Regions from separate parts of the Homo sapiens genome. Here regions 2 and 3 are each linked to region 1. Evidence: fine-mapped expression QTL. A gene starts in region 1. Each other region holds a variant in brackets. All regions are shown on one strand. Distances are between the middles of the regions. Region 1 holds the start of TATDN2 (TatD DNase domain containing 2). Region 2 overlaps HRH1 (histamine receptor H1). Region 3 overlaps HRH1 (histamine receptor H1).

The links.
Region 2: its variant is fine-mapped to the expression of TATDN2 in aorta (GTEx, PIP 0.92).
Region 3: its variant is fine-mapped to the expression of TATDN2 in sun-exposed skin (GTEx, PIP 0.99).

The regions. Positions count from the first base shown.
Region 1 is chr3:10,247,136-10,249,898 of GRCh38, reverse strand. It overlaps TATDN2 (TatD DNase domain containing 2), which reads right to left and starts at 1,440. Exons shown (of 8, transcript NM_014760.4): 1 at 832-1,440; 2 at 285-704. The coding sequence starts at 698. RefSeq lists an enhancer at 4-872 and a silencer at 1,125-1,554.
Region 2 is chr3:11,237,215-11,239,977 of GRCh38, reverse strand. All of the region lies in intron 1 of HRH1 (histamine receptor H1), which reads right to left. Among named protein-coding and RNA genes, the nearest start is that of ATG7, 34 kb to the left of the region's middle. The variant G/T (reference allele first, on the strand shown) is at 1,281.
Region 3 is chr3:11,185,151-11,187,913 of GRCh38, reverse strand. All of the region lies in intron 1 of HRH1 (histamine receptor H1), which reads right to left. Among named protein-coding and RNA genes, the nearest start is that of HRH1, 32 kb to the right of the region's middle. The variant G/A (reference allele first, on the strand shown) is at 1,083.

The DNA.
Region 1 (2,763 bases):
AAATCAGTTTCTCTGGAGTAGGAGGCAGGCCCAAGTATTTTAAAGCTTTCCAAGTAGTTCCAAAGTGCTGCCGAGTTTGAAAATTACCTCTCTACTTAACTTCAGGCCACGCGCCTGGAAGACTGCTAGGTCTTCGAGTTTGGGGGGAGTGGACTTCTAGAAAGACCTTCCAGACCTTCAAGGATGTAATGTTTTGTAGTCTCCTTCCACCAAAATTCCCATCCCCAACCTCTCAAGCCATGTGGAAGGGGCTTCACCGATTGCAAAGCGTGGCAGCCACCTACCTTAAGGCTGCAGGCTTCCTCCTCTAGAGAAGCCATTTCTTCCAAAGAGGCGTTGGCAGGACGCAGAGGGGATCCCCCTGAAGACAGGAACCCCCGAGTGTTCCGAATCAGGCAGCCTTTGGAGGCGGCCCCGCCCACACCAGGGCCCAAGAAATGTGGGGAGAAGGAGGAGGAGGAGTTATTTCTGCGGCGGGATGAGCCCCAGGATAACCTCCGCGAGCAAGCCACATCGTCCTCCTTCTGGGCTTTCAGGCGCTTGGGGCTGCTGGGCCCTCCAGAACGCGACGCAGACCTCTGAGCTGGCCGGCTGGAGGGGGCCACATCACAGGGCTCCCGGAGGCAGCTGCGCTTGCGGGGACACCCTTCCGACGTGCTGCTCCAGTTGTGCTTGACCTTGCCCCGCTCGGACGCCATGGGCACCTGCAAGGTACAGGGGGCCTGGATTCCAACACCACCCTTCCTGGCGACCCCACCTCAGATTCCCGCCACCCCGGGCCCAGGAGGACGGCAAGACATAAGGGCAGAGCCAGGGGCTAGCCTCACTGACCTTTCCCTCTTCTTTCCACTGCCCATCACAGTTCTCAAGGTTTCAGAGATGCCAAACCGTGTTGGAGAAGTCAAAGCGATCCAAAATTGACTAAAGGCTGCCGTCGGTTTCCAAGCCCACAACGTGCTTCTGAGATCAGGAAGCCTTCACTTTGCCCAGCGCTACTTCGGAGATGCCTAAGCGCTTCCGGGGCTACGAAGCGCTTTGATCAGTTTGCAATATAAAGCCCTTTAGAACTGTCAAGCGCTTCAGAAGACCACATGGCGCTTCAAGATCCACACATGGCTGCCGGATCCGCGGCCCCGGGGCCGGGCGCTTAGCCCGTAGGCCAGGGCCAGACCCGGGCGCCGCAGCCCGCCCTGCTCCTGCGGCCCAACCAGACCCGGGCCGGAAGGGGCCCGAGCGGCCCCTCGGGAGCTGGCAGCGCCCTCGACCGCCAACTCAGGACGCCCCCCGCCGGCTGCCGCAGCTGTCCCGCCGGGCAGCCCGCCGCCTGCCCCAGCCCTACAGCCCCGCCTGGCCCGGCCTCCGCCCGAACTGCGACCACTCCGGCCTCCGTGGCGCCCGCCCTCCGGAACGAGCCCTGCGGCCCGCAGGCCGGAGAGCGACAGGGGCGGGGCCTGCGCCAAACGGAAGGCGCCCATTGCTCGACCCGGCAAGGGGCGGGACTCCGAGCAAGACGCAGCCCGCCTCAAAGCCAGGCGCCTTGGAGTCGGGACGGTACGCCTTAGGAAGCTCGTCCATTGGTCAGAAGCCAGATGGGGCGGAGCCACTCACGTGGGCTCGAACAGCGGGAAGTTGAGGCCAGCCAGATGTGCAGGCAGGTGGTGTCCGCTGACGCGCCTCACTTAACGCTGTTTTCCTCAGCGCCGGCCGCTGTACCTGAAGCTTTCAGACCTGGATTTCTCATCGAGCCAAAGCAAACCGTGTACTGAGCATTATCACCCCACTTTATAGAGCAGAAAACTGTGGCTCAGAGAGACTAAGTACACACCCAGAAATGGGAAGAATTAGAATTAGAAGGCACCAAAAAAAAAAAAAAAAAGACTACACAAAAATGTGAACTATCCGCCTGGTGAAAAATATTAAAGACGGCTGGGCACGGTGTCTCACGCCTGCAATCTCAGCACTTTGGAAGACCGAGGCGGGAGGATGGCTTGAGCTCGGGAGTTAGAGACCAGCCTGGCCAGCATGGTGCGACCCCCATCTCTACAAAAAATAAAATTAGCTGGGCGTGATGCCAGCTACTCAGGCTGAGGTGGGAGGATCACTTGAGGCCGGGAGGTCGAGGCTGCAGTGAGCTGTGATCCCGCCACTGCACTCCAGCCTGGAGGACAGAGCAAGACCCTGTCTCAAAAAAGAAAAAAAATCAAAGACAAGGTACAAATTCAGAAAAATACTCGAAACATATGACAAAGGGCTGATATTCGATGTAGCAATTCTCCCAAAATAATAAAATAACTTAGTATTAAGACTGGCAAAGGAGGCTGGGTCCAGTGGCACACGTCTGTAATCCCAGCACTTTGGGAGGCCGAGGTGGGTGGATCTCTTGAGGCAAAGAGTTCGAGACCAGCGTGGGCAACATGGTGAAATCCTGTCTCTAGTGAAACACAAAAATTAGCCTGGTGTGGTGGTGGGCGCCTGTAGTCCCAGCTACTCAGGAGGCTGAGGTGGGAGGATCCCTTGAGCCTGGGAAGTCGAGGGTCCAGTGAGCCAAGATTACTGCCACTGCACTCCAGCCAGGGAGACAAAGTGAGACCCCTGTCTCAGGGAAAAAAAAAAAAAAAGGCAAAGGAAGCAATGAACAAAAACAAATCATGAAACGCTCCTAAATATAAGAAAGATGGCTCCACCTCAACCATTAAAAAAGTACATGTAAGGCCAGGTGTGGTGGCTCACGCCTGTGATCCCAGCACTTTGGGAGGCCAAGGC
Region 2 (2,763 bases), 990 kb before region 1:
TGCCATCAAGACAGTCTGTTGGTCTCACATATCTGATATATCATATATCTGATGTATCAAGAAGACAAATGAAACAATTGAATAATTGACATCATTTAAAAACTAAAAGATTTCATGCAAAATCTCCAGATTTTATAAGTGGGGTTAAGTGGGGGTGGGGGGCTGCCACTGGGGGCAAGAGGAGGAGTGTTGCTCACCTCTGGGAATGCTAAAATAGAGGAGGGGATAGAAGAAGGCAGCAGACAAAATGCAATAATTCATATGCTGGAACAACCGAGATCTACCAGCAGAAGGATGAATTTAGACCTTTCCCTTATATCATACACAAAAATTACTCATAATTGATGATAGTCCTAAATGTATGAGCTAAATTTTTGTGACCTTGAGTTAGGCAAAGATTTCTGAGACACAGCACCAAAGGCATAAGGAATTTTTAAAAACTGCTAAATTGGACTTCATCAAGATGAGAAACTTTTGGGTTTCAAGAGGTACCACTAAGAAAATGAAAAGCTATGGAATGGAAGAAAATATTTATAGGTCATATATCTGATATATCATATATCTGATGTATCCAAAATACACAAAGAACACTTCCAACTCAATCATAAGAAGATAAATAACCCAATTTATAAATAGGCAAAGGATTTATATAGACATTTCACCAAATAAGATAGAGGAATGGCTCAAAAGCACATGAAAGGATGTTCAACATCATTAGTCATTAGGGAAATGAAAATCAAAACCACAGTGAGATACCACTTCACATGGACTAGGATGACTATAATTTAAAAAGAAGGACAATAACAAGTGTTGGTGAAGATGTGGAGAAAGAAGAACTCTGAAACACTGCTGGTGGAAATGTCAAATGGTGCAGCTACTGTGAAAAGCAATCTGATAGTTCTTCAAATGGTTAAACATAGTTACCATATGACTCAGTGATTCCACACCTAGATATATACCCAAGAGAACTAATCGTGTGACCACAGAAAAACTTGTATGCAGATACTCATAGCATTATTCATAACCACCAAAAAGTGGAAAAAAACCAAATGTTCATCAACTGGTGAATGGATTTTGATTAAAATGTGGTCCATTTGTCAATAAAAAGAAACACAGTACTGTTCCAAGCTACACCATGGGTGAACTGGAAAAACATCATGCTAGGTGAATGAAGCCAGACACAAAAGGCAACACATTGAATGATTCCATTTATATGAAACGTCCAGAATTGGCAAATTTATAGAGACAGAGAATAGATTAGTGGTTGCCTGGTAGTGGAG[G/T]GGGGGACAGGAAGGGATCTTTTGGAAAAAACAGAAATGTTCTAAACTTGGATTCTGATGATGTTTATACAACTCTGTACATTTACTAACGATAACTGAATTGTATGATTCACTTAGAATGGGTGAATTTTATGATAGGTAAATTACACCTCAATCAAGTTGTTTTTAAAATTTTTCAGTGGATGAAGAAAGAGGCTGCTCTGGGTTCCAGATCTGTCTGTTTTTAAAATCTATTTCACTACACCAGTGCTGGGAAACAGGATCAGCTATAAGATTCTTCAGTTTCATTTAAATGAAAACAAACTAGTTGCTTAGCGGAAGAACTGCTTTAGCCAGAACCAAGATTTAGATAAAATAGATATCATGATTTCTTGTGAAAGGGGCAGTGAGATGTTATGCGTAACTTCTAAATTAGTCATCAGAAGTGGAAGGAGAGGAATGACTGAGCTACATCAAACCCTTTCCTCCCGCACATCTGTGATCTTTCTCATTTTATAATTTGGTTTAAGAGATTGAACTTGTTTGATTGTTTGTCTGCTCCCCACAACCCCCAGCCCTGGTGTGACAGGCTGGGATTTTTAAAGCTAAGTGCAGGAAAGGGAAACTGAAGGATATTATCACTAAATGGCAAAACAAACAAACAAACAAACAAACAAACAAAGGCAGCATTAAAAGCCCAGCTCAGTTATCTCTTACTTTCTGACCTCAAAAAGCAAGGGAGAGGCTGGGCGCAGTGGCTCACGCCTACAATCCCAGCACTTTGGGAGGCTGAGGTGGGCAGATCACAAGGTCAGGAGTTCGAGACCACCCTGGCCAATATGGTGAAACTCCGTCTCTACTAAAAATACAAAAAAATTAGCAGGGCGTGGTGGCGCATGCTTGTAATCCCAGCTACTCGGGAGGCTGAGGCAGGAGAATTGCTTGAACCTGGGAGGTAGAGGTTGCAGTGAGCTGAGATCACGCCACTGCACTCCAGCCTGGTTGACAGAGCAAGACTCCATCTCAAAAAAAAAAAAAAAAAAAAAAAAAAAAAGGAAAAGAAAAAGAAAAGAAATATTTTCAGGATTGCATCAGGCTGGGAGAGTTTCCATATTGCATCGTTTAATCCTCAATCGTTTAATCCTTAATCGTTTACCGTGCTGGTAACCTCACCAAAATAATTCTGCCCCCAGCCTCCCATTTTAATGATGTGGAAAGAGAGGCTTCTGGAGTTTTTAGGGCTTGGTGCCTGCACTAAGAGATCCCAGAGTGACTGAAGAGCAAGTTTCACTTAAAGGCCCAGGTGGCACCCATCTGCTAAGACCTTCCAGTGAACTTCACATACTCCCCCCACTCCATCCTCTTTTCCATTGTGAAGAGAGGGAAATAAATAAACACTTTAAATAAAGATTCCAGGGAATTGAAAACATGGACATCCGTGCTAACGTGAGAAAAGGATACAGTGAATACATCATCCTCTTTTTCACTGTGAAAAGAGGAAAAT
Region 3 (2,763 bases), 940 kb before region 1:
TGTTAAGTCAATGAGGCAAAAGCAGTTGATGTAACCTTATGCAACCATTACAACTGGAGGCTACAGAGACTTCAGCAACGTGGAAAAACACCTTAAGAAAGAAGAGCAGGACAGAAAACAGAATGTACACCACGTTTACATGTTTACAACAACACAAAAATACAAATCATCGTAGGAGTTGGGATTGAGGGTTGGGATTGAGGATTGATGCTTCCTGAAGACAGGAGTATCATTAGACTTAATGTCCTCATTCCTGTTCCTGCATGCATAAGTTTGCCAAATATGAAATAATGCATACCTGACTTTGCTACAGCATGTGCAGGACTTAGAAACTAAGTATATTTGCATCAGTTATCTCTTCTGACCTTCCCAGAAACCCTCTGGGTGAGCAGGGTAGGTTTTGCCCCCATTTTACAGAATGGGCTCAGTAACGTTGAGTGGTCTGTGCAAGGTCATGTGTTTTATTATTTTTATATATTATTATATTTTTAGATATTATTTTTCTCTTCTTCAAAATGTTTTGTAATTCTATTATATAACCTTTGTAGTTAAAAGAAAAAAAAATTACGGACAGATTTTCAGCTGACTTTCCAAATGGCCCATCCCAGTTTCTTAGGAGCCTCCTATACCCTTTTAACAAATATCTGTGTTTGTGTCACAGGAGACTGAAACTCTTTGCTTAAGTATTAGTAATTCTGTTCAGCAGAGAAAAAGATATCTTTGTCAGTAGTGGAAAGTAGGGCTCACACTTACGATCCTGAAGTTGGGTTATTCCAGGCCAGAGGACCCCCTCTGGCCCCAGCCTCCTCTGAGGCTTGGGAAAGGGAAGGTCTGGAATTGTATAACCCTGAGATTATTTTAAGAACGTCATACCTTCCAGTACTTGCATACTTTTATCTTTTTTAATTTAAATTTTGGATCCATCTGGAATTAATTCTGGAGAAAGGAGTGTGCTGCAATCCAACTTAATATTTTCCAGGTGGTTCTTCAATTGCTCCAAGCCCATTTATTGAATAATCTATCTTTTCTCCAGTGATTTGTAATGCCACCTTTCATACATACTAAATTCCTATCTGCATTTG[G/A]GTCTGTTTCTGAACTGTCTTCTGTGCTGCCTGTCTGCCTGATTACCTAGAGCAGATCCAGGCACTCTCAGACCTAAAAGTGTTAGCCCAAAACAACCTGTGGCACAAAACAGACTAGAAATTAGGTCCCCCAGCCTGTGCTACATGAACACCCATAACTATGTGATGATGGTCCCTTAGCCCTGTGAGAGGAATCAGAGTGGTCTCAGATCCCGACCTCCAAGGCAGGGAGAAGCTCCAGGCATTAAAGTCAGCTCTTCCTTCCTCTTCATTTATTCAGTGAGTAAATGCAACAGTGAGTGGCTCAAGGGGAGATTACTCTTGGGTTAGTTAGCTCACCTCTTGGGGCCTCAGTTTTCACTTCTGCAAAATGGTTATAATAATAATGATATCTATGCCATGCTGCAAGGATCCACTCATCTGATACTGGGCAAAGGTGCAATGGTAAAAGCTGTGGTGATGATGAATAAGGGCACTGGCATGATGGCAGAACAGCTCTCTCCTGTTCTGAAGCAGATAATGCCCATCACTTTGGCTGCAATTTAGCAGGGAGCAAGCGGCATAGCTTTATGACAGCTGCTCAATACATCTAGAGGTCAGGCTGCCCACATCCCAGAGGTATAGAACTCCTACAGGTAGGTCCCTAGAAACAGGAAAAGGTGGAGTTGTCCGGATGCCAAACCTGACTCAGAGCCCAGCATTGAAAGGGCTTAAAACAGGGCTCGATCTTGCTTGGGAGGGGCCCAGGAACCCACTGGAGGCTCTGCAAGGTGGGCAGGAGGAGCAAGGGAATTCTCGGCAGAGCAGGAAATCTGGAAGGGGGTTGGAGGGGGCTGGAGGTCGGGGCTTCCACAGAACACCTAACAAATCTGGTGATGCCATTGCTGGGAGGCATCACATACTCATACGTGGAACTGCCATCTACCCCAGCAAGTGCCGGAGCCCTGGGAAGTCAGGCACAGAGCCCAGAAGTTACCGTAAACAACGTCTGAGTGCCAACATTCCAGGACAGGAATAACAGGCCCCACCCCACCTCCTCCACACATGTGCACCAACACGACACCGCAGGGTTTACAAACACCATCACCACTATTGGCCTGTGTCATCGGAGCTCCCCCAGGAGGGAGGGACTGTCATTATCCCCATTTTCCAGATAGGCAAATGAAGACTCAGACACAGCTCACCCGAGAAAGTGGCAAAGTTACAACTCAGGTCTTCTTGGTCTAAAGGCCAGACCACAAGGCAATCTTGACAGGGGCCAAAGTGGAGTGTCTGTTTAGTCCTCTAGTTGCTCAATAAGCATTCATGGAGCGCCAACTTCATCCTCAACACTGAGAGTGCTGGGTATACAGAGGCAGGTGAGACACAGTTCTTGCTCAAAAGGACCAAATAAATAATTACCCTGCAGTGCCACATTTAATGGGTAGACAAAGTGCTGTGGGAGGTCAGGGGAGTGACTTACTACTTTGAAAATTCAGGGAAGGCTTCCCAGAGGAGGTGACTTATGAGCCAGAACTCGAAGGATGTTTTCATCAGTGAGAAGCAGTTTAGTCCTCAATGAGTGAAAGTGCAGGTTCCTGAGCCTCAGCGCTATGCTCCAGGCTCCTGCCCTCTCTGGCTATCCTTTAGAATTTCCAGGGATGCCTTACCCCAGACTTTCTGAATCTGAATTTATAGCACT